Linked DNA regions of Homo sapiens: all the other regions are linked to region 1. The links come from fine-mapping of genetic effects on gene expression. A gene starts in region 1. Each other region holds a variant in brackets. All regions are shown on one strand. Distances are from middle to middle. Region 1 holds the start of IRAG2 (inositol 1,4,5-triphosphate receptor associated 2). Region 2 overlaps IRAG2 (inositol 1,4,5-triphosphate receptor associated 2). Region 3 overlaps IRAG2 (inositol 1,4,5-triphosphate receptor associated 2). Region 4 overlaps IRAG2 (inositol 1,4,5-triphosphate receptor associated 2). Region 5 overlaps IRAG2 (inositol 1,4,5-triphosphate receptor associated 2).

Region 1 (5,109 bases):
GTATACATATATAACAAACCTGCACGTTGTACACATGTACCCTAGAACATAAGTATAATAAAAAAAATTTCCTTTTTAAAGCAAACACTAATTATAATCCAGTCATGTGTCTATTAACAAGATACTTGGATATAAACAAAGTTTAGATGCAGAAGAAATAAAATATATAAGTAACCATTCAAGCAATTGAACAGTTTTCATGGCACATTTCTTGAAGAATATCATGCACATGAATTGCCTCATAAATCAGCCCAGTCCTGAAGGCAATTGAAAACTTGAACAATATCATTTATTCAAGATAAAGTTCAGGATTTCTGATCAAACATCACATATAAATTTCCAGTTGTAGTGTGAACATTATGCACATTGATCTGAACATTTGGACAAACCAGCTGCATCCCCACACAATGTGCTGATGCAACTTAGATGGATCAGAAAACAATTGTCTGAAATACTTTGTGAATTTATTAAACTAGCCAGAGAGTTTCAGAAAAGCTAAATAGATATAAATATGTTTTGTTTTCTGACTCAGAATCAGATGTCTGACTCAGAAATCAAACAGCATGGGGTGGCAGTGGTCATGGCGGGATGTGCGTGGACGTGTTTGTGTGATAACTGCAGTCATTGACATTTGTTTGCAGTCTATCTGGAACATCTGCTATATAGAACATTTTGAAAATACGTGCTATCTAAATTTCCCTCTTCTCTCAAAGATTGAATTTAAAGGGCATTGTTAGAAAGATCGTAAGTACATGGTCATATAAGCAAAATCCTGATTTGTATGGGTTTTTTGGGCAGCAAAAGATACAAGTAACAAGTAAGGGATTTCATAAATCTGGACAGGTTATGCATAACTCAAGACAGAAAGGAAGTGTCCACTCTACGTTATCCAGGCAGAAAAAAATACACGTATCAACCCAGGGCAGCTTTCATATTCTGCTTTTAAGTGTATTTGAATCTATTGGGCCGTGAAGATAAACTGGGAAGACAACAATAGCAAGTTCATAATATCAAGAACGTGCACTTTGGGGTAAGTTATTAAAGTTGACTCTTCTAAGAAAATACTGCAAGAAAATCACAGTGAGGAAGGGGAACAAATTCTTAGTAGTTTATAAAACTCAGGTATAATATTGATTTAATCAAAAGGCAAAACTGGAGCAAAAGAATAGTCCTGGGCACAGTGTCTAAAGCAGACACACCTTAAACCAACTTTGGAATGCCTTATGATTCATGTCTCAACATGAACAGTTCTAATCACAAGGGAACCTTCTCCAATGCCCTCTGAGCAGTAGTAAAATAACACACAGACTGTGTAATTTAAAGACTGCCTTACTAGCTTAACAGAGTGAATCAGAATATTGAAAACTGGCAAATTCAATAAAGGTTTAAAAATTATGACAATAATATGTTGAATAACCACTGCTATTTTAATGTTTTATTTATTTATTTGTTTGTAATTTTTGTAGAGACAGGGTTTCACCATGTTGTCCAGGCTGGTCTCAAACTCCTGGGCTCAAGCAATCTGCCCACCTCGGCCTCCCAAAATGCTGGGATTACAGGGGTGAGCCACTGTGTCCGGCAAACCATTGCTATTTTAAAACTAGACTATTTCTTAAACTCCTAAATAGCTTTCTCAGATAATAGTAGAAAGGGTACAATAAATCCAAAACAAACACAAGTCTGAAATTTTTCATCTCTAGCCTACCTTAAGCTTATATATTAAATATATAATTATTTATAATTATATAACAATTAACAAATAAACAATGTTTATTTCTCAAACCAAGTAACTTTCTATAAAAAGAATATTTATACTGCTAGAACAAGAAACTGGCTGAACAAAAGCAATTGTCTGATAAATGGCTAAATAAGTAAGGTTTATTTTTACCATATTAGGTTTCTAGAATGAAACAATTTTATAGCTAATCTGACATCTGTAATGTGACAACTGTCTTCTCACATAAATCTCTGGTAACTGTTTATATACTTTTGGGTAATACAGAAAAATGACAAATATTCCAATTTTTAAAATGCAAAATATGTATGTAGATGTATGTAGAGAATGCATTAAAACTTTAAAAGAATTTTCACACATTTGATATTTTGATATACACTGAATTCATAATTATTTTGCCCAACCCCCTAAAATTTCCAAAGAAAATAGACGAGCAAGGCCTTTTCTACCATATGAGAGGAAAAAAACTAGCTAATAAAATCAGAGTATAATATATAACAACTTGCAAGTTCAAATATACCATGCATACTAGATTTTTCTCCTTGTTTACTTTTAGAAATTTTGAGAAGTTTTAATTAATTTTAAAAGAAAAAAACAGCCACAGACAAAACCAGCTTATAATAAAAAGGCAAAAAGGGAAGTTAATGGTTAAACCCATGCATGCACCTAGCCACTCAGCAAACCTCTCTGAAAGCCCCACAATATTGCCTTCTCAAACCATTTCATTGTCATAAACTCAGGAATAATATCCTAGCTGTAATCTAGAAAAATGTCTGTAGTCCTATGCCCCGCCTGAGGGTGGACAAAAACTGGGTCATAAATGAATATTTGCTACTCACTCTTCAGTTTCCTTGTCTTCTGCTGAAGTGCCTGGCAAGTGTTCGATAATTCAGTATTTATAGTTTGAAGGTTCCGTTGTTCCGAAATTGCTTCCTCTAATTTATGCAGTAAAGACGTAGCTTTTTCACTGGCAGTGTGGGCTTCTCGATCTCGATCCTTACCCTGGACATGGATAGTTAGTGCTGGATTGTAGCAGTGTGGCCAGGAAAGAAAGCAATGGAGTGCTCACTCTTATGATGCAGGCAAAACTGAAAATGTGTTTTTCTTCTCAGGGAAGTGATAAGCCTCTCCTGAACTTCTGCAATTCTGTGTTTGCATGGGCTTGGTATGCCTGAGCTATTTCTACAGCGGTTAAAGTCCTGATATGTCAAGTTGCCTCTTTCTGCAGAGTCGCCTCTTTCATCAGCAGGCTGTTGATACCGCCTCTCTTACAACTCCCCCTTTACTTCCTCTGCTCACTGTTAGTCGCTAGGGACTGAACTTGCAGTTCCTCTTTGCTTTTTTTTTTTGTTTGTTGTTGTTGTTCCTCCTCCATTTTTATTTCATGGTTTGCAGGGCATCTGAGGAGATGTCCCCTGAATCTAATGTAGCCATGAGCCACCCTACCTGCTCCTCCACATCCTCCAGCCGTTGGCTGGTTTCTTGGAGCCTCTTCCTAAGGATGCCTTCCTGGTTGACAGCATCTTCCTGTAGTTGTTTAATGGCTTCTAGTTGTTTCTGACTGGAGTTAAAAAAAAAAAAAAAAAAAAAAGTCCAAACCGCAAGCTGTCAGTGACATTTCAACTAAGAGTCACCCTGTGAAATTATGACAAACTCAAACTTAACACCACTTCCTTAGAGATCAGAGGAAAAAGTGAAAGTATTTACATATAAATGCTTCACAAATATAAAATCTTAAGCAAAGCTTATTGGTCGCTTAGCCTGACACCCTCACTTTACAGATAAGGACTTCTAGTTTCATCTTTTACACTGGTGTGTTCAGTTCCCACCAGCTGCATTCATAGCACTTAGCATCAGTTGCCAGTTGCCAGTTACTCAGAAGATGGCTCTACAATGAGGTCAGGGTGACAGGTGCAACATTTACACATCACAGCTAGCTTTTACAGAAAAAGAAAGGAATGGGGTAAAGGTAGGGGGAGGGAAAAGAAAAGGAAAGAGAGCTTTGTTTCATGACCTTAGCCTTTCTCCTTAAGGGTTGTCAATCATAGTATAAACACGTGCCACGAGCACAGGAAGGACCGCCCCCAGGCACAGATGAAAGCTGGCGGTTGATATTTCTACTTTAGTCCTCTTTTTGCTGAAGCTTTTCTCCCCATCACCCTTCCCCACCACAGATCTCATGGTGCCATTACGTTACACCTCATTTGGATCCAATTCTAATCTCTAAAACATGTAAAAATGCACTTACTCTCTGTTAGCAGATGAGATTATTTAATGTGTGTTACATGCCAGTACCTCAATGATTATCTGGAAACAATCTGACTTGAATATGGACCTTAACTCAAAGTGGTGATAAATGTCGGGAGTTGCAAAACAGCAAGGAAGACATTGTCAGCCGTAGGCCTTGTGCATGCCTCTCAAACGTTAACATTTAGTCAGAATGCCACTGCACACTGGCACAAATCCAGCCCTGGTTACACGAAGGACCACATGAGAGGCAAGAATGGTCTCACAGAATGCTTACCATACTGGTAAACAAGCAAACAAAATCCTAAGCAAAAATAAAAACTGCCTACATCACCACACTTTCCACTGAGCGTCCTTCAATAGCTTATCGTTGTCTCTCTCACTCTCTTTTTCTCTCTTTTTCTTTAACTGTGGCAGGAACATTTAACAGGAGATTTACCCACTTAACAAATTTTTAAGTGTACAATACAGTATTATTAACTACAGGCATAATGTTGTACAGCAGATCTCTAGAACATCTTCATCTTGCATAACTGAAACTTTATACCTATTGAGTAGCAACTCCTCATTTCCCCTCCCCTAGCTCCTGGCAACCACTATTCTCTCTCTTTCTATTAGTTTAACTATTTTAGATACCTCAGAGAAGTGGGATCGTGCAGTATTTGTTGTTCTGTGACTCACTTATTTTACTTGGGATAGTGTCCTCCAGGTTTATCTATGTTGTCATATGTGGCAGAATTTCCTTCTTTTTAAAGGTTGGATAATATTCCCTTGTATTTATATACCAAATTTTCTTTATCCAATCATCCGTGGACATTCAGGTTGTTTCCAAATCTTGGCTATTGAGAATAATGCCGCAGTGAATATGGGAATGCAAATAGCTCTTCCAGGTGCTGATTTTAATTATTTTGGATAAATACCCAGAAGTGGGGTTCCTAGATCAGATGGTAGTTTAATTTTTAATATTTTGAGAAAACTCTGTAACTGTTTTTTTTTGTTTGTTTGTTTGTTTGTTTTTTTTGAGACGGAGTCTCGCTCTGTCTCCAGGCTGGAGTGCACTGGCGCGATCTCAGCTCACTGCAACCTTTGGCTCCCGGGTTGAAGCGATTCCCCTGCCTCAGCCTCCC
Region 2 (5,109 bases), 47 kb before region 1:
AAAGGTAAAGCAAAATTCAGAAGATATTAAGACTTTAGAGACTACCGAGCAATATAAATATCTGTTTATCATTCATTTCATTCTTCATAACAATTACCATCTTAACCAATGGAATACAGTCCTCTGTGTCACTGTGATGTCCATAATGCCTAGCTAGCACAGGGTAGGCACTACATGTGTGTCTGCTGGAGAAAGGAATCCAAAAGTACAGTTCAGAAGAGTATCAAATATGGTTACTGTTCTAGAACAGGGAACAGATTCTTGAAATAAGAATTCTGCTCAGAAAAGTTCATATTGTTTATTTTAAATAAAACTATTGTAAGATTTATAGAAACGATATGTTACTCCCCGTGGCCTCATATGTTTCTCTATTTTCCAGTTCATCAATCAGCTTACTGTGCCAGGGTCATTCCTTCCGTGAGGAATCAAAACCGTTGCTGATGGCAGCGCCCATTTAAATTATTTATCCTTACTTTTTACGTGTGGAGAAATTCTAATGTATCCTAAGTAGGGGAACACTAAGGTCAACTTCATGAGTTGGATTAAATATATTCTGTCATCTCAGTAATCTAAATTGAGTTAATAAATTTTTGGTGTCATTACTAAAGAATCCTTCATGTGTCCCAACCTGTTTTCTGACACCTCACTTTTAGCTATATAAATAACAGGAATGAATTATTTTTCTAATATAAAGTTAACCTAAGAGTTTTATTATACTGAAGTAATAATAAGACTTAGCAAAAAAGAGGAGAATGTAGAAAAACACAACTAATACTATTATCATAAACTTTTATTACCATCATCTTCAAGAGGATTGAAAGACCTTTCATTCTGCAGAAGAACCTGTTTCAGTTCTTCTAATTCAGCGTGCTCTTTGGCATACATCCTCTTCAAGTTTTCTACGTGCTGAATCATCACTTCAACTGCTTTACTAACCCGGCTTTCCTAGCAAGAGAAAAAACGAGCACATTTACATTGAAAATACTACTCTCAATTAAAAGATGGTGATTAAACACATTTACCTTCACTCCATTCCTAAATCCCACTAAAGTGGCAATAAATGTTTTTTTTTTAAAAAGACATGCATCTACAGGGGCAAACAGAAGAGAATATGACAACAAGACTTTGAAAGCTGGATAGAAGGACTAGTGGCAAATGACTAAGACCTGGAAAAGCTGAACCCTAAAAAAGGCAGTAAGAAAAGCCTAGAAGCAACCTACACTGCACCTCAGTAAGGTTGATGGTGGGTATGTGAACAGAAGAAATGGTTGAAAGTCTGTGTAAAAAAAAAAAAAAAGATTAGGTCCAGAGACTCCTTCCTTACTGTGGCCAGCACAGCAATTTTCCCTCCACTATTTTGGTGAAAGACTACATACAGTTGGATATCTAGAGAGAGTTAACTTGAGGTTCTGTGGATTGGGAAAGAACAGATAGTTGATGATGGATCTATCATGCTGAAAACAACAGATTTAAGCAACAACTTATATGCATATTGAATATTGAGATCCAGCCTTATTCCTCCTTCCAGCCTCCAAACACTGGCAGCCAGAGTTACACCCTCAAGGCAGGCAGTTGGAAGGTTTTTCTCTGGGGATTCTAATATTCTAAGATAAAAGTCCTATAACTAATGACATTAGGAGTACCCCAGTGAAACATCTGGAATGTTCATAGTCCTATGAATATTTGTGTACAAGTATCTGAGTGCCTGTTTTCAATTCTTCTGGGTATACATCTAGGAATGAAATTGCTGAGTCATATGGTAATTCTATGTTTAACTTTTAAGGATCCACCAAACTGTTTTCCACGGTGGCTGGACCATTTCACATCTCCCAGCAACGTACAGTGTTTGCAATCTCCCCACATCCTCACCAACACTATTCCTTCTTTGCTTCCTCCCTCCCTCCTTCCTTCCTTTCCAACTTCCTTACTTCCTTTCTTCTTTCACCATAGCCATCCTCGTGGGTGTGAAGTGGTATCTCATTGTGGTTTTGATTTGTATTTCCCTAATACATTTAAGGATGTTAAATATCTTTTTACCTGCTTATTGACCATTTGTGTATCTTCTTTGAAGAAATGTCTATTGAAGTCTTTTGCCCATTTTTTTTTTTTTTTTTTTTTTTTTCAGATGGAGTCTCACTCTTGTTGCCCAGGCTGGAGTGCAATGGCACGATCTCGGCTCATTGCAACCTCTGCCTCCCGGGTTCAAGTGAGTCTCCTGCCTCAGTCTCCCGAGTAGCTGGGATTATAGGCACGTGCCACCACACCTGGCTAATTTTTGTATTTTTAGTAGAGACGGGGTTTTACCACGTTGGCCAGGCTGGTCTCAAACTCCTGACCTCATGATCTGCCCATCTTGGCCTCCCAAGGTGCTAGGATTACAGGCGTGAGTCACCGCGCCCGGCCACACATCCTTTCAAACCACAGTAAGACATTGGGTTTTACCCCAAGTAAACTGAGGAGCTTTAGGACGCTGAACCAAAAAGTAACACAATCTAATTTTAAAAGGATTACTCTGGCTCCTTTATTAAGAACAGACTATGTTGGGAGGAGGGATTGGAATTGGATGGAAGCAGGGAGACCATATAGGAACCTATTGCATTAATCTGGACAAAACAGAATGGAGGCTTAGATCAAGATGGTAACAGT[A/G]GAAAGGGAAATAAATGGTTGAATTCTGAATATATTCTGACAATTCAGCCAATAGGATTTTCTGTAGGATTTAATGTGAAGTGAGAGAGAAAGGTGTTGAGAATTACCCCAGCTCCCTCTGCCCCTATTTTGGCCTGAGCAACTAAAAGGACAGAGCTGCCCTTGAGTGAAGTAAGGAGCTTATGCATGGGGTAGGTTTGGTGGGGGGACCATGAACAGTCAGTTTTGAATGGTAGGTTTGAGTTTATCAAACATCCAAGTGGAACTGTTGAGTCAGCAGTAGCATACTCTGCTCTGGAGCTCAGGGGAGTGGGTTAGGCTAAACATATGAATTTGAGAGTCCTCAGGTGACTGCAAGGGATCACAGGGGGATTGCGTGCACATGGAGATCAGATGTGCACGAGTGGAGTCCTGGGGCTCTTCAATATTCAGAGGTCCAGGAGAAGGGGTAGAACTGCAGGAAGCCTAGAAGGAGCAGCCCGTGATGTAGAGAAAAGCTAGAGGACATGGTGCCTGGAAGCTAAGTGAGGAAAGCATTTCCAGGAAGAGGAAGACATCAGCCATGCCAGATGAGGACTGAGAAACTGAATTTGGTAATGTGGAGGTCACTAGTGACCTTGGAAAAATCTGCTTTGTGGAAGCAAAAGGCTGATACAGAGTGGGTTGGAGAGAACGTGGGAGGAGGGAGACTGAACACAGTGAGTACCATTCTGTCGAGGTTTGCTGTAAATGGGAGCAGAGAAACAGGGTGGTGGCCAGAAAAGAAAGGATAAAAAGTTATTTTGTTTGTGTTTGTTTTGTGTTATTATTCCCATCTAGAAAACAACATATTATTTGTGTGCTGATAGAAATGGTTCAGTAGAGTGGAGAAAATGTAAATGGAGAAAAGTCAGGAGAATTTGGTCCCATGACTCTGAGTAAATTAGTCGGGAAGGCTCCCATCTACAGTGGGGAAGGCTGGCCTTGGATAGGGTTAGAGACAACGCATCTTTAGGAACAAGAGCAAGGGAGTGTGTAAGGATTCACACGCTGGGAGGCTTTGTGGCAGTTTCCTTTGATTGTCCCAGTTTCCTCAGTGAGGTTGGAAGCAGTCATTACCTGTGTTTGAGAGAGAATATGGGGAAAGACATGACAGTGGTTTGAGGAGAAAGGAAAGGGTGGGAAATTGATATTTAAAAGAGAAGGAGGGTGATTGAGGGGAAGCCCCAAGGACCCGCTTGAGGTTTGTGATAATGAATTCAAAGAGAAACAGGTCAGCATGGGAATGTGACATTTTCCAGCTATGCAGGCATGAGAGGTGGAGAAGCGGATTTACTTGTAGATTCGCCAAATGAGTAAGACAAAGCAAGAAAGGGGTAAGTGATGAGGGGACATGCAAGGTAGTGAAAACTATGTTTAACTGTGGAGTATAAGCTTGGCCAGGAAAGCAGGATGGCCAACAGTAGCTTGAGGGACAGTGAAAAGGTGTGATGGGCCAGAGATTGATAAAAGAACTAAATATTTGTCTTCGTAGTGGAAGAGCAACAGATAATACCTAAAACTGAAAATAAATCACTAAATGGCAGCATGAGCATGTTATTGAAAAATGTGAATGCAAATACAAAACAAATAAGACAAAAAGTTGAAAGTTGTTTCTCTGGATCACGGGAAATTAGTAAGGCTTATAGAGCTGATTGACCTTTTAAAAAACTATGTGCATATATAACTTTAGTAAAAATGAAACAAAGAATAACAGTATTCTCTAGTGAGGGGTTAAAAAGGAACTAAGGTGTGAAAGTATATAACAAATGATCAAACTAAAATTACTACCACAATTAAATTTCTCCTTAAGAAAATATATTTTAACAAGTCTGCTTAGGTATAGATTTAAAAAATTCATATCTCCCCAGGTTTGCCCACAAAGAAATTTTGGAATTCTACTTCTCTAAGGACAAATACACACAGATGCATATACAAGGATATTTACTGGAGCATTGTTTATAACAGAAAAATACCAAAAACATCCTGAAATGATTGAATACAAGGAATTGGTTAAATAATTTATATCTACTCAACCAGTAGAATACCATAAAATGGTGACATGTGAGTATATAATTATATCACACAGAAAGTTACCTATGTTGTATGATGAATAAAAAGCAGATTATAACACTATATAAGGGATTATAAACACTATATTATAACACTATACATCTTGAAGAATATATCACAAAAATTTTATGATTGTCACTGGATCGTATTATATTTTTTTAACATTTTTTATTTGTATATTCCATTTTTTCTGTATTAAACACATATGTATTAAACGCATATGTCTTATACAACAAAAGTATTTTTTAAAACTTATTCCTAGAAGTGAGAAATCCATAGTCTCAGGAAAAGTGAATCTTTTTTGTAATTTCATTCTAACTAGAGAAATGAAGACAGGTTACCTGATTGATGGCTCCCAACATCTCAGCCCTA
Region 3 (5,108 bases), 54 kb before region 1:
AGCCCCTTGAGGGCAGGGCTTTGTTGTTGCAGTTGTTATTTATATATGTTGTATGTCTATATTTCTTCTGTGTTTTCTTTCTCTGTTATATCCCCAGCACTTAGAACAGTACCTCACACATGATAGGCACTCAATAAATATTTGTTGCATGAATTAATACATGTGGATAAGCTCCATAATCACCAAAATATAAACAGTGTGATGGTTTTTCAAAACCCAGTAATGGAACACATAGACTGTTTCTTTTAACCTTTGCAATTTTGGGGGATAAATTGAGCCCTTCAAATAATAATCTGCTACCAAAATACTGAATAGAAGAGGAATTATTAACAACTTGCTTGAATTTTTTTTTTTTTTAGGTGAGGGAACACCTTACTGAAGCATGTACTGAGAATCCTAATTGGGCCCTTTTAATGTTTAGTGGTGACAGAGCACAAAGACTGAAGATCAAGGAAGAGAGTGAGGCATTTTCTGAAGCACTTAAAGAAGAAACTGAGTTTCATTCTACTTTATATCACATGGTGAAGGATTTTGCTTCTGAGGAAGCAATGGAGAAAGTCAGGAGTTCCAACTGTCAGTTTGTCAACTCTGTGTGCCACATGCTGCTCTCTACCAGATTGCTCAGCTACTCCTAACCTCCACTTACAAACTGTATTGTAAGTATGAAGAACCAAGCATGGTGAAAGACAGGTATTTCTGCAACACAATGTAATGAGTGAATGAATACATTTCAAATCAACTATTAAAAATTTTCTAATCTGCATTTTCTACTCAAGTTTTATTTTAAAAACAGTATTTTTTTTTCCTTTGAATACTTGGCCTGTTAAGAATTTCAGCTTTCACTCTATGAAGATTTAAATGATTCTTTATTTCAATAAACTTTAACAAACAATATATAATATTTCTTCCTTAAAAAGCTCATTCAAAGATCATAGGCAGACTTCTTCCCCATTGTATTTTAGTTGGGGAGATAAAGGCAAAAAGAGGAAATGTAAGCTATCTTACAGTCATTCTGAGAACCTCTGGTTTCATGCTATACTTTCCCAGCTAAAAGTTACTAATTTACGAAGTTCAGATACTGAAACTTAAAAATCAAGATCCATATATTAGGATGTCCTGCTGTCACACTGGTGGTGGCCCATTGTGTCGGAGTCTGGTAAATGGCCACAAGATATGTTCTAGAGACGTCCATGAGTCCTCTTGCTGTGTGGGAGCGGCATCCACAGACTTCTGGAATAATTGGCCTGTGAGGAAGCTCATCAAAGCTGCAAACAGTACAATGAATGCAATAGAGAGCCAGAGGGCCTTATTAGCCTTTCTGATGGAGGACTTGAGATTTGTTGCCCAGGAAGCTATTGTGTCATAACTATAAGGAAAACACAAATAGAATTTGGTAATCGGTAATTTGTCATTAGAAACATTCCTTTTGCTAACACCACCAGTCAGGTGATCTGCCCTTCATACCCCCAAAACTGCCTTTTAATCTACATATTATGATTTATCATTTTGGTTTTGGAAACAATCTGCCTCCCACCCTTTGTACCTATTAGGATTAAAGAAATGATGTGCTACGATGAGAATCTGAAAATTACGTGATGTAGGCAGTATCTTCTAATAAGTACATACAAGTATCTCATTCTTTCAGTAAGGTAAGGCAACATATTCCTACAGTGGAAACAAAAATGTTATTTGCTGGGTAGAGTGGATGTCTGTGTATGTACTTATGTGTGTGTACAGTAGTCCCCCTTTATTCTTGTGGGATATGCTCCAAGACCTCCAGTGGATGCCTGAAGCTGAAAATAGTACTAAACCCAGTATATACTGTTTTTTTCCTATGGATACATGCCTATAACAAAATTGAATTTATAAATTAGGCATAGTAAAAGATGAACAATAACTAACATAAAATAGAATATAACATATATTACAGTAAAAGTTATGTGAATGTAGTCTGTCTCTCAAAATAGATAACATAGGTTCAAGGATAACCTGACATACAAAGTTTGTTATTCATCTTAAATACAACAATTTGGCATGTCTTTTAGTAATTTGATTAGGATTAATACTGTCAGCCCTGCCTCACCCTTTCCCATTCCACTAAAATGGTAGAATTTATCAAGTAGATAACTTACACTGAAGAGACATCCCACTTTGATGGATTATTTTTCTTTTCAGAAAGACTTGGCTTCCTTGTCCTTTCTACTGTTTCTTCTCCAGATGGCTCTGAGTCATCTTTAGTTCTGTAAATAAATGTTGTTTTTAATATTTGAAACTAAGGATAATATGCTATAATTATTCATAAAATATTGCTGAATCTTACTGTAACTCAAGAGGCTCACAAATATTTGTTCTGTTTTAGGGAAAGTCGATAAATATCTAACTCTAAAAATCAAATCACCAGATTTATAATTTAAACCTTTTATAGAAATTTAATTAAAAA[T/AT]AAGTTCTTCTATTTAGAAAAATAATAAATGTGTAGAAAGTTAGTTAGAATATTAGCCAAGTATATACAATAGAATATTAGCCAAGTATATACAAAAAGGGAAAATTTAAAAAGAACTTTCAGAAGTTAGTCTCATCATTAACCAATGTTATTACTATGAATTCTTTCTCTGCATATATATATGCAGAGAAACTCTGCCTAGGCTGGAGAAGAAACTCTGTTGCCTAGGCTGGAGTGCAGTATATATAAATATATACTATATATACACATATTTATATATAATATATACACACATATCTACATATAATATATGCATATTAATATATGCTTATACAAAGTTTATAATATATACACACATATTCCATAATATATATATTTATATATATAAAAATATGTATGTATATGTTGTATATATGTTTTGTATATGGATGTGTACATATACCTGTGTGTGCGTGTGTGTATGTGTATATATAAAACAAATGTGGGCACCATATCTCTTCCTTTTAAATTTTATTTAACATTAGTAAAAATCTTTTCTCATTATTATTGATTTTATTCCTTTCTCTGTATGATTTCCAATCAGTGCTAACTTGGAGTAACATCAGAGTTTTTCTCTGAAAATCTTAATAATTTAAAACGTGTTTTTGAAAATATTCTCAGTATAAAACTGGTTAAAATAAATTAGTATTCAGTGAACTGGGAAATAGCAATTGATTGACTGCATTTTAAATCAAATCATATTATTTAAAGAGGTGTTCTTCCACCTAAGCAAAACATAATTGTTCCACTATATTTGCTGATGAGTTCCTAGTTGGATTTGAATTTTGAAATCTCAAGCTCATAATACCCTCAGAATTGCCAAAGGGAAATGTGTCTCAAAGACTTTTTTTTCATTCAAACATCTATGGGAAATAAATATGATAGACTTTAGTTTTTAAAGAAAACAAGACCCAAAAGCCAGAATAAATTGCATTGCATTTCTGTAAGATTCTCAAGGTTTCAGTCTTGTTTACAAAGACTTCTCAGTAGAAATCATACCATACTAACAAAAAGCAAAAACTAGATAATCTTTTGAAGGAGACTCTTGAACTGATTTTTTTTTCCAACCAGCTCAAATTCATTATGTTAACTCTAAATCTGAAAAGAGTTTGTAACACATGCAGTAGGCTCCCAGGACTTTAAAAAAAAGAAAAAAACCAAAACAGATTATTTGAGGATTGCACCATGTCATGCTCATCTTTATATTCCTTAGAATTGAGCAGAGTGTCCATCCCATGGTAGGCACTCACGAAAATGTATAAAATAAAATAAATAAACATAAAATCATCTCCTTAAGATCCTTCACTTTAACAGATATGAAAACTGAAGGCCGGGCGCAGTGGCTCAAGCCTGTAATCCCAGCACTTTGGGAGGCCGAGGCGGGCGGATCACGAGGTCAGGAGATCGAGACCATCCTGGCTAACACAGTGAAACCCCGTCTCTACTAAAAATATTAAAAATTAGCCGGGCGTGGTGGCGGGCGCCTGTAGTCCCAGCTACTTGGGAGGCTGAGCCAGGAGAATGGCGTGAACCCAGGAGGTGGAGGTTGCAGTGAGCTAAGATCGCGCCACTGCACTCCAGCCTGGGTGACAGAGCAAGACTCCGTCTCAAAAAAAAAAAAAAAAAAAAAAACTGAGACCAAGTAAGGTTAGGCACTTTTTCTAATGTCACCCAAGGACTCAGAGGTAGCATTTCTGCATATCCCTCCTTCTTGCCCTCTACCTTTCACTGTAGAAGTATATTTGTTTAGTTTACTAGATACAGAGATAGCAATTCAGAATTTCATGTTTCCTCTACTCTTCACTTACATAAATGGAAGATAGATAGATGTACATACATGTTACATATGTGCCTATATGTTATATAATACGTACGTTATATATCTCATGTTTTTAAAAATATATAAATAGATGGACATTTTACTTCTGTGGCTCTTTATTGACCTTTCCCCATTGTAGACAGACACCTGGACAGGAAAAAAATTATCTTCACAAATATGGCAAACTCCAGGGTCTTTTCTAACTTAAGACCTCAAACTTTGCCATTCTGAGAGCTATGAGAGTGAATGTATTAATATTCACAAATAACACTTATATTGTGCTTTACAGTTTATAAAAGTGTTTTACAATGAATTATCTTTTTAATTATACAGCATTATTTCATCTCCATGGAATAAAAGTGATTCCCATTGTTTATGCCCCAGTTCATGTCAGGTTAATAAACACACTGAGCTTCACCTACTTTAGTTCACATTTTTCTTCTTCAGCATCTGCCCAGGAATAGGTGCTAATAAATCGAGGTAATGAGGGACGGTGTTCACTCTGCTTTGACCCCAAAATACGCCTAAATAAAGATGATTATAGCCACTTGTCAAATCAAATACATCTGTAGCCATTATCAATTTATTTCCTACTGCTTAAGTAAATACAAAATTATATGTCCTAATTATTTTTTTCTTGGCACATTCACAGATCTCCTACTTTATGATAAAAAACTTCATAATTAGATACCAATTTATATAATTATTCTGTTTACACTTTGTACAAATCAAACATTACTATATCACTTAATTTGAGCACTCATTTAGGTTAGCCCAAGTATAAAATAGTAAGGTTCCCAAAGAGGAACC
Region 4 (5,109 bases), 34 kb before region 1:
CATGGCTAAAAGCCTAAACCTCCTACTGGTATCCTGGTTCTTCTTTGGATCAAGGCTTTATTAGCAGTAGCAGGAACAGTAGTAGTAATAATAATAGTAGTAATAATAATACTGGTAACAATAACAGTGACAATAAACATGGCATCAACCATGGCTTTATTATATTGCCAATCACAGAGCAAAGCATTTTACACATATGATTTTATGACAACTTTACCAAGGACTATGTATTAGTTATTAAGAGCATTGGATTTAAAGTCAAACAAACTTGGTTTAAGTCTGAGCTTTGTTTGAATCTTACAGTTATGTGAGCTTGAACAAGTCACAAAGTCATTAAGCCATCTAAGATAAGATTGATAAGATAAAGATATCTTATCATCTAAGATAAGATTGATTTTTTTATAATAGTAACTAACTTTTATGAGAACTTTGGTGCCACTTTTCTAAGTGCTTCATACATATTAATTTATTCAATCCTCACAGCAAACCTTCTGTTGTAGATACTTTTATTGTCCACATTTTATAGGCTAGGCAACTGAATCACAATTTACCACCTCACATAGTATTTGGAGGACTAAATAAAACTATGCACATGAAATTAGCCTAGTTCTCAGCATAGAATATATTCTCAATTAAGTGTACTTTTCTTCTTTTCATTTTCCTCTTGCAAATGAGAAAATTGAGACTTAAGGTTAAGTAACTTTCCAAGATCAATAGCTAGTCAGAGATTGATCCCATGTAGAGTCTCTATGACTCCAAAGCCTGAACTCTATCCACTATTCCATCCCAATGGAGGTAGGCTAAGGGGAAAAGCATATTAGCACTTATTCTGTAAATAGGGGCTTTACTTTTAGATGGGATACTAAAAAAGAACTAACAGTAGAGCATAGCATTTGCTACCAACATTCGCTTGGTTCTTAGTTCACAATAGAGCACCAGTTATTACAGGTTTTCTGGGATCGCACAGTCAACACAATGCAAATGTGGCTTTTTGAAAATGACACAAATGGAATCAATAATCGGTCCTATTGACTGACCTTATCCAGAGATGCAGAATTTGTAAGTGACATAGCTTTATTCAGACAGATTTCACCCACAAAAATATCAGCAGAGAACAAAAGTTCACATGGGGATTGAAAGAAACATTCCTTACCTCCTGAAGCATGTTCTTTTTTATGTTCTTCTATTGTTTCTGGTTCCTCTTTGGCTTCCTAAAATCATAAGATTTTACCACTGTACATAGAGTGGAAATACTTCATAACCAGTCATTTTCCTACTTCCTGTCCTCTCCTAAGCCTACTCTGACAAAAACACTCTATAACAGCAGTCCCCAACCTTTTTGGTACCAGGGACCAGTTTCCTGGAAGACAGTTTTTCCACGGGGGTGAGGTGAGGGGGAAACAGTTTCTGAAGGAACCTGTTCCACCTCAGATCATCAGGCGTTATTCTCCTAAGGAACATGCAATCTAGATGGCTCGCTTGCACAGTTCACAATAGGGTTCGTGGGAATCTAATGCCACCACTGATTTGACAGGAGGCAGAGGTCAGGTGGTCATGTTCCCTGGCCTGCCGCTCACCTCCTGCTGTGCGGCGCAATTCCTAACAGCCTCGAATGGGTTCTGATCCCTGGCTCAGCAGCGACTGGGGACCCCTGCTCTACAGTTTTTAATGCTGTTAAGAAGGAAATAAAATTGGCTGCAAGGGCGCTTCCAATCTAGTTGAAGCAAAAAGGGCGTAAATACATGAAAAGATGCAAACATGATGTGAATTACAACAATGCAAACTAGGATTAATTGCCAAATAAATGAGATAGATAAACAAGTGCTCTTAATAGGAAGGAAATGGCAGGGCGCTGTGGCTCACGCCTGTAATCTCAACACTTTGGGAGGCTGAGGTGGGTGGATCACCTGAGGTCAGGAGTTCAAGACCAGCCTGGCCAACATGGCAAAACCCCGTCTCTACTAAAAATACAAAAATTAGCCAGGGGTGGTGGTGCAGGCCTATAATCCAAGCTACTCTGAAGGCTGAGGCAGGAGAATCACTTGAACTGGGGAGGCAGAGGTTGCAGTGAACCGAGATCATGCCACTGCACTCCAAGCTAGGCAGCAGTGCAAGGCTCTGTCTCAACAAAAAAAAAAAAAAAAAAAAAAAAAAAAAGGAAGGAGAGTGGCACCATGACACCATGACTTGAGTAGCATGGAATTTCTGCAGACAAGAAACATGCTGAAGTTTGATGAAGAGGTAGGACTGGATAGATGAAAAGGTAAGGTGTGGGTGATATAGGGCTATCACATGGAGTTTTCTAGATAGGTTTTTGGAGAAATTGTGACAAAGATGGCTGCTAAGACAGTGTTATGTTAGGCTTTTACC[G/A]CATATAGATATGTTTTAAGGTCACATAAGGAGTTGTGTGTGGCTGCTGTTTCTAGCTCTTCCTCTCCCATTCGTGATCAATTAACTACTCTACCCCTTTACACAGCACTCCAAGAAAAGTGTTCTCACCAGCTATCAACTCCCTATTGCCAAATCCAGTGGATAATTTTCAGTCTTTATCTTACTTGACCTTACTATAGCATCTAAAATTATCTATACATCCTTTCCTCTTGAAGATTTTTTCCCCTTGATTTCCCTGTTCTGATGCCCCAGCCCCGCGTCACAGCCCGTTCTCAGTCTCCTCTGCCTTCTCTAGTAGATATTGTTAGCCAGGATTCCATTATCCTCAATGCTCCCTTCCTTCCTGCCACAGTCCTTGGGAAATCTCATCCACACACTTGGATTTTTGCTGATAATTCACAAATATATGTCAGCTTTCAAAAACCGCACAGGTGAGTTTATGAATATGGGTATGCAGCCGTATATAAAATCTCCTTACCGACTATCAATGTCTCAGATCAGCCTGAAATTTGACTTGTCTCAAACTGATCTTATTTTACCCCACAAATTCTACTCTCCTTCCTCCTTCCCTACTGTCATGTTATTCTATTCATTCGGTAGGTTAAGCCATAAGCCTGGGTATCTACCGTTTCCCATACCCGTGACATGTCATCATCCTCTGTGAATTCTACCCCTAAATATTTCTCAAATTTATCTCCTTTTCTCCACCTTCACTAAATTCATACTACCTTCATCTCATCTGAATTATTGCCATAGTATCCTAACCAGTCCCACAACTTCCAATGGCAAATTGATCCATTATTTTAAAAAGTGTCTTTATGTCTATATTTTTTTTGAGATGAGAAGGAATTTTATTCTCTCAGAAGATTCTACTATGAAAGAGTAAAGGACTTGAGTTTTCTTCTGTTCATTTTTTACTAGGAGCAACCATTTTCAGCATATGTGCTAGCCAACACTATATCCTACCTATACAGCTGGCCCTCTGTATTTGTGGGTTTGCATCTATGGATTTAACTAAAAAAAATGTAGTTAGGCCTACAATGGTTGTATCTGTACTGAACACACGCAGATTTCCTTTCTTGTCATTATAACTATTTACATAGCATTTATACTGTATTAGGTATCATAAGCAGTCTAGAGATGATTTAAAGTATATAAGAGGATGTGTTAGTGATATGGGAGGTGGGCAGGGAAGTGCTGGATAGAGAAAGGCGGGGTCCCCAGTGAGGGCTCCACCCTCAGGCCTGTGCCTGCAGACCTAAGTGAGAACAGGCACTCCTGTTTTTGTGTCTGAATGTTGTATTTTCCAAGACCACTCTGGCCTACCATGCCCCTCATCCTGTGCCAACATAAACCCGAGACCTTAGTGGGCACACAACACAAGCAGCTGAAGTGAGCACACAACACTGGCAGACCAGCAGACTGGCAGACTGACAATAGTGGAATGACATGGCAGAGAAAGAGAGAAGAGGGGGGATGTCTGGATGCCAAGGGGAGTTTAGCCTGGGGCAGTTGGAGAAGAGTATGGCCTCTGGGCAGCCTGACTCCAGGGGAATACCCCCTTCCCATTCCATACCACCTTCCCACTCCATCCCCCCTTCTGGCTCCGCATCCATCTTACTGAGAGCCACCTCCACCACTCAGTAAAACCTTGCACTCATCCTTCCAGCTCACGTGTGATCTGATTCTTTTGGGACACTGAGCGACAGCTCAGGATACAGAAAGCTGTCACACTGGCCCTCTGCCCTTGTGATAAGGCTGAGGGTCCATTGAGCTAATTAACACACAAGCTGTCTGCAGATGGCAAATCTGAAAGAGCTTTGTAACACACACTCACTTGGACTTTGGGAATCACAGACACTGACCCCTAGATGCTGCCAGGGGGCAGAGCCCAAAAGCGCTTGCCCTGGCCTCTGCAGCTGCTGGTCTGCATGTTCCCCCTAGGGGCTTGAACTATGGGGTGACTAAGCAGGTGAGACACACCACTGCTGCATGTCCTGCAAGGGGAATCAGGGAACTCTCCCGTTTCATTAGGTTATATGCAAATACTATGCAATTTTTATATAAGAGACTTGAGCATTCTCTGATTTTGGTATCTGTGGGGTTCTTGGAATCAATCGCCTCTGGATAACAAAGGAAACGAATGACATCATGTCATTGTTCCAAATCACAAATCCAATCATTTCACTATCTTTAGAATGAAATGCTGAAAAATTTTCATCTACTTTTTTGCCCCAAGTCTGTGCCATGGCCTCCTCTTAACTTGAGTTAGCTTGCATGGGTCTCTGTTTCTTGCAACCAAATGCTTAACTAGAACAATGCTTGTATATTGAGAAGAAAAAAACAATAATACACACACACACACACACACACACACACCCCTCCATGCATACAACATAGCAAGACATAAGCAAGACATAAGCAAGACCCTTGAAGAATCATGAAATTAGACCTGTAGTTACTCTTTAATGATTATTAATTCATAGAAGTGGAAATGAGTCTTCTCTCTCTCTCTCTTTTTTTTCTTTTTGAGACAGGGTCTTGCTCTGTTGCTCAGGTTGGAGTGCAGTGGCATGCTCATTGCTCACTGCAGCCTCAAACTCCTGGGCTCAAGTGATCTGTCTGCCTTGCCCTCCTATATAACTGAGACAACAGTCAAGCACCACCATACCCGGCAGATTTGTTTTTATATTTTGTAGAAACAGGGTCTCCCTATGT
Region 5 (5,109 bases), 20 kb before region 1:
CTGTTTAAATGTTCCAAAAAGAGGAACAATGCTAAGTTGAATTTTAAAAGATTAGAACTACTGGAACCTAAACAAAGCTAAATTTGCTTATAGGTTTGCATTTATTTTTTCTCTTTCTAACTAAAGGTATACCACACCCTCAGATCTACAGGTTACACCCACCACTTTCAGGTTCATTTATAATATAGTTATCAGTCAACTTCTACATGTTCCAATTTTGCAACTGGCAATGTTATTTATTCTCCAAGGTTATTAATGCTGCACCCACATACAACTTGGAAGAACAGGACAGACAATAGCCAGAAAATCTTCTGAGATATTTTTAAATTGATCCTGTTCTTGGCCTTAATAAATCACCGCCTCCCAGTGATAGTACATCTTAGACAAAAGCATGTAATAACATGAAGGATAACGCAAAGAGAGACAAGACACTTAATATTTGGTATATGTAATTTTTTTAACAGCCAAAAGAAAAACAGAGAAATTCATCTCCAAATCATTGGCTTGTTTCAAGATATACTCTGGCCTTCATGCTGCTGATAATTCTGATTCTGGGAAATATGACCAGCTAATTTTCTTTTTGAGGTTTTACTATGATTCAGGTATTTTGCGTATGTTACAGAGTATCTTGGTGGGGTCAGAGTTGAGACTGAAGTAAGATAGAAGGAAGAATCAACTTTGTTGTCATAGGACAGTGTGGACAACAAACCAAAAGAACTGCAGAGACATGAGTCGTGAAACCAACTTCTTGGCCCCACAATTTCTCGAGAGGTTAAAAGTCTGCATGGAAGCCACTAGTCGGTGAGGCCTGAAGAACATGGGGATATATTTGGTATTCACCTCTGGAACTCACTGGAAATGTTGGGAAATGACTCCATGAAAGGAAAGGCCTTCTTAGTCATCAGCAAGTGGGGAAACAAGGCATTGAGAGGCAGTGTCTTGCCTCTACATATGACCTAGTTGGTTTGTTTCCATGGACAGGTTAGGCCAGAACTCAGTGATACAGATATGTGGAAATATATGTATATATGTAAAGTATTTGTGTGTGTTTATTTGAATCCTCAAAAGAACTATGAAAATCAATGTCTATTTCACAGGGGACACAGCAAATTCAGACAGGTTAGGTCATGTGTCCAAGTTCACACAGCTAATAAGTAATAAAGCCAGTCTTCAATCTAGATGTGCTTCATTCTACAGCCTATGCTATGTGGCTAAAGATTCTAGAGCATTACTAGGAAAAATTTCAGATAAATACAAAAGTAGACAAAACAAAGAATCTAATGAATCCTGGTATATCCGTCATGCAGATTCAACAATTACCAACCTATGGCCAATCTTGTTTCAAACTCTCACCCTCTAAACCTTGTTTTGAAGCAAATGGCAGACATCATAACATTTTTATCCGTAAATATTTCAGAATGAATCTCCAAAAGATAAGGACTGGAAATAATTTGTTTCCTTCTTTCCTAACTACACCAGAATATCCCAAATAAACTAATTTATTGGGTGAATAAAGAAGTTCTTTCTTCCTCAAGAATGTCCCAAACAGGGCTCCAAATTATTTTACTTTGAGATGTTCTTTTTGAGACATTAACCTTGTTAGCGTTCTTTGCTCTCCCAAAGACCTGCTTATGAATAATGATGTTCACTTTTATATTGCACTGTGCCTTCTGGGAAAGATATTAGAAGACAGCTTCCTCTGTGAATATGGGGAAGGAACAGAAAGTAAATCTCAAGTTCTTAGGAGCACCAGCCCAAGAAATGAGTCAGAAAGCAGTAAGCTAATTGAGTGCTCACTCTCAGTGTTTTAAACAGACGTTGTAGTGAGTACAACCTAAATAAATAGGCATTCAACAAATATTATTGGGCAGCTACTGTATATAATCCTATGCAGGGTGCTACATGCGCATTGGTTAATGGCCAAATAAAGGTACTGTCCAGCAATTTTATCACCTAATACACAAATAAATATAAGAAAATAAATAACTACAATGCAAACCAGCATACAGATGACAAGAAATGTGGGGCACAGAGAATTACAAGGGTCTTAAAGAAGGAAGTGAGCTTAGTTTTTTTCTGAGTTGGATCATTGAGAAATGAGGAAACAGGCCTGAAAACACGACTTTCCCAGA[C/G]TCACACAGAGGCCAACCCACAGAAAAACCTCATCTCCCCACTCTTAATCCATTATGATTTCCACCTCAAGAAGGACTGGAGATGCTTGAATGTCAACATTTTATGCTACCACAAAAAAAGTTTTTATTGGTTTTTGAAATGGGGCTTGACAGTCTAATAGAATTTTGATAAATGGAAAAGCATACATTGTTCTGGGCAAAGAAAACAGCACAAACACGTTTGCGTGATATATTCTGACAATATAGGCTACCTGGTTTGGCTGACGTACAGGCACAACCATACACAACAATGGGGAAATAAAGGTAAAAAGGTAGACTGCAACCAGTTTAGAGAGGGACTCCAATACCAGGTCAAGTTGTTTGTTATAAGGCTGTAGAGATTGACAGAATCCATCATTTAGAGACAAGGAGTTAAGAAAACACCCATCGTCTGGGGTGTCCACTGGGATGATAAACATATATTATGTTTTTAAAATAATTTATATCTTATATTTTACTCTAATTCCCTGTAATTATTACCAATGACAATGCTTAGAAAAGCGTTTTCTAAGGAGAGCTTTCTATTTTCTTAAGAGATAATGTGAGTATAAAATGATGGTAGGTGGGGAGTTGCTCAAGGGACAAGGGTCAGAGGCAGAGAGTACAGTTACCAGGCTGTTGAGATTCTCCAGTGGAGCAGAAACCTGGAATGGGAAGGTTGAGAATTGGTGGGATCAGTCAGAAGGTGCAGCCAACAGACTAATTCCTGGGCTGTTGCAAACTACAGAAGACACAAGAAAATCTTCAGGGAACTTACAGGAGCATGTGACTGGAGGCTCGATTGTGATGTCTGTTAGCACCTATTTCTTTTTTTTCTTTTTCTTTCTTTTTTTTTCTTTTGAGATGGAGTTTCGCTCTTGTCGCCCAAGCTGGAGAACAATGGCACGATCTCGGCTCACTCAACCTCCTCCTTCCGGATTCAAGTGATTCTCCTGCCTCAGCCTCCCAAGGAGCTGGTTTTACAGGCGCCTGCCACCATGCCTGGCTAATTTTTGTATTTTTTAGTAGAAATTGGGTTTCACTACATTGGCCAGGCTGGTCTCAAACTCCTGACCTCAGGTGATCCACCTGCCTCGGTCTCCCAAAGTGCTGGGATTACAGGCGTGTGCCACTGCGCCCAGCCCAGCTCCTATTTCTTAATGGGTGTGAAGCACAGACAAAACCACGCAGTCACATATCCTAATAAGAGTCAATATGGAGGTCCTTTTAGATATAAAAGGCAGTACATTTCTTAGCCAAAAAAAAAAAAAAATACTTTCAAGGTAATGCTAAGTAATTATGATTAAAATGTCTAAATTCAGTGTACTAAGAGTAGCCATGACAAAGGCCTGTATCCTTTGAAGCTGGACAAATCTGAATTTTAATCCCAGGTTTGTTATTTATTAATTGAGTGATCATGGGCAAGTTATTTAACTCCCTCAACTTCAGTTGCCTCCTTTGTAAAAAGCAGAGAAGTGTGGAGCAGATTAATCACATGGCATGTGGGAATGCTTTTGTACAAAGTTCCTGGCACACAACTGATATTTGTTTCTTCCTTCTTCTTGGTAAACTCGGTGCCAGATAAAAGGGAAATTACTAATAACCAAACATCCTGTAAGCTTCCAAGTTCAACTTCCTTTACTAAAACTTTATAAGAATTGCTAGGTAAGAGCAAGATATATTTTTAAAAATTTTCAATTTATTTTTATTTTTATTTTTTGAGATGGAGTCTTTTCCTGTTACCCAGGCTGGAGTGCAGTGGCGCAATCTCGGCTCACTGCAACCTCTGCCTCCTGGGCTCAAGCAATTCTCCTGCCTCAGCCTTCCAAGTAGCTGGGAGTATAGGTGCCCGCCACCTAATTTTTGTATTTTTAGTAAAGATGGGGTTTCACCATATTGGCCAGGTTGTTCTTGAGCTCCTGACCTCAAGTGATCCGCCCACCTTGGCCTCTAGGTAAGAGCAAAATAGATTCATTTCCTTTTTCTTAGCTGCTCAGACAGGTATTTATGAACAAAAACAATGCCATATACCCACTCAACAGGAAGAATAACAACAACTTGTACAATTCAATAGTGAAAAGAAATATAATCCCATCTTTAAAATGAGCAAAGGATCTGAGTAGACTTGTCTCCAAAGAAGTTATACAAATGGCCAACAAACACATGAAAAGATGTTCATTATTAATCATGAGAGAAATGCAAATCAAAAATACAGTGAGGTATCACTTTGCACCCACAAAGATGGCTTTAATAAAAAATAGGCAAATATTTAATGAGGATACAGAGAAACCGGAATCTTCATACATTGCTGTTGGAAATGTAAAAGGATATAGCCACCCTCGAAGTCTGTTTTGCAGTTCCTCAAAAACATTAAACATAGAGTTACCATATGATGCAGTAACTCTGCCACAGGAATACACCCAAAAGAATTAAAAACATGTTTACACAAAAACCAATACACTGATGCTCATAATAGCATCACTTGCAATAGCCAAAAAGTAAAAACAACTCAAATGCCCATCAGCTGATGAATGGAAAAACAAAATGTGGTGTGTATCTATACAGTGGAATATTATTGAGCCATAAAAATGAATGAAGTACTGATATCATGCTATGACATGGATGAATCTTGAGAACCTTATGCTGAGAACCTTGAGAACCTTAACTGAAAGAAGCTGGGCACAGAAGGCCATATATTGTATGAATCCATTTATATGAGATGTCCAGAATAGGCAAATCTATAGGACAGAAAGTAGATTAGTGGTTGCCTCCAGCTGGGGGTTGGGGACAGGAGGAAATAGGGAGAGACTACCAATGGGTACGCAGTTTATTTCTGGGGTGATCAAAGTATTCTAAGACCGATTGTGGTGATGGTTGTACAACTCTGTGAATATACTGAAAGTCATTTAAGTGAATAATTTAAATTAATGAATTGTCTGGTGGGTGAATTATATCTCAA

What was found.
Region 2: its variant is fine-mapped to the expression of IRAG2 in whole blood (TOPMed, PIP above 0.99).
Region 3: its variant is fine-mapped to the expression of IRAG2 in whole blood (INTERVAL, PIP 0.99).
Region 4: its variant is fine-mapped to the expression of IRAG2 in breast (GTEx, PIP above 0.99).
Region 5: its variant is fine-mapped to the expression of IRAG2 in esophagus mucosa (GTEx, PIP above 0.99).

What each region holds. Positions count from the first base shown.
Region 1 is chr12:25,050,422-25,055,530 of GRCh38, reverse strand. It overlaps IRAG2 (inositol 1,4,5-triphosphate receptor associated 2), which reads right to left and starts at 2,825. Exons shown (of 22, transcript NM_001366544.2): 1 at 2,575-2,825. RefSeq lists enhancers at 2,951-3,320, 3,361-3,470.
Region 2 is chr12:25,097,014-25,102,122 of GRCh38, reverse strand. It overlaps IRAG2 (inositol 1,4,5-triphosphate receptor associated 2), which reads right to left. Exons shown (of 22, transcript NM_001366544.2): 15 at 5,079-5,109; 16 at 798-945. Among named protein-coding and RNA genes, the nearest start is that of IRAG2, 47 kb to the right of the region's middle. The variant A/G (reference allele first, on the strand shown) is at 2,647.
Region 3 is chr12:25,104,075-25,109,182 of GRCh38, reverse strand. It overlaps IRAG2 (inositol 1,4,5-triphosphate receptor associated 2), which reads right to left. Exons shown (of 22, transcript NM_001366544.2): 20 at 4,721-4,822; 21 at 2,133-2,240; 22 at 848-1,366. The coding sequence ends at 1,123. It overlaps DNAI7 (dynein axonemal intermediate chain 7), which reads left to right. Exons shown (of 16, transcript NM_018272.5): 16 at 360-894. The coding sequence ends at 635. Among named protein-coding and RNA genes, the nearest start is that of IRAG2, 54 kb to the right of the region's middle. The variant T/AT (reference allele first, on the strand shown) is at 2,441.
Region 4 is chr12:25,084,202-25,089,310 of GRCh38, reverse strand. IRAG2 (inositol 1,4,5-triphosphate receptor associated 2) reads right to left here. Exons shown (of 22, transcript NM_001366544.2): 11 at 1,154-1,211. Among named protein-coding and RNA genes, the nearest start is that of IRAG2, 34 kb to the right of the region's middle. The variant G/A (reference allele first, on the strand shown) is at 2,371.
Region 5 is chr12:25,070,107-25,075,215 of GRCh38, reverse strand. All of the region lies in intron 6 of IRAG2 (inositol 1,4,5-triphosphate receptor associated 2), which reads right to left. Among named protein-coding and RNA genes, the nearest start is that of IRAG2, 20 kb to the right of the region's middle. The variant C/G (reference allele first, on the strand shown) is at 2,133.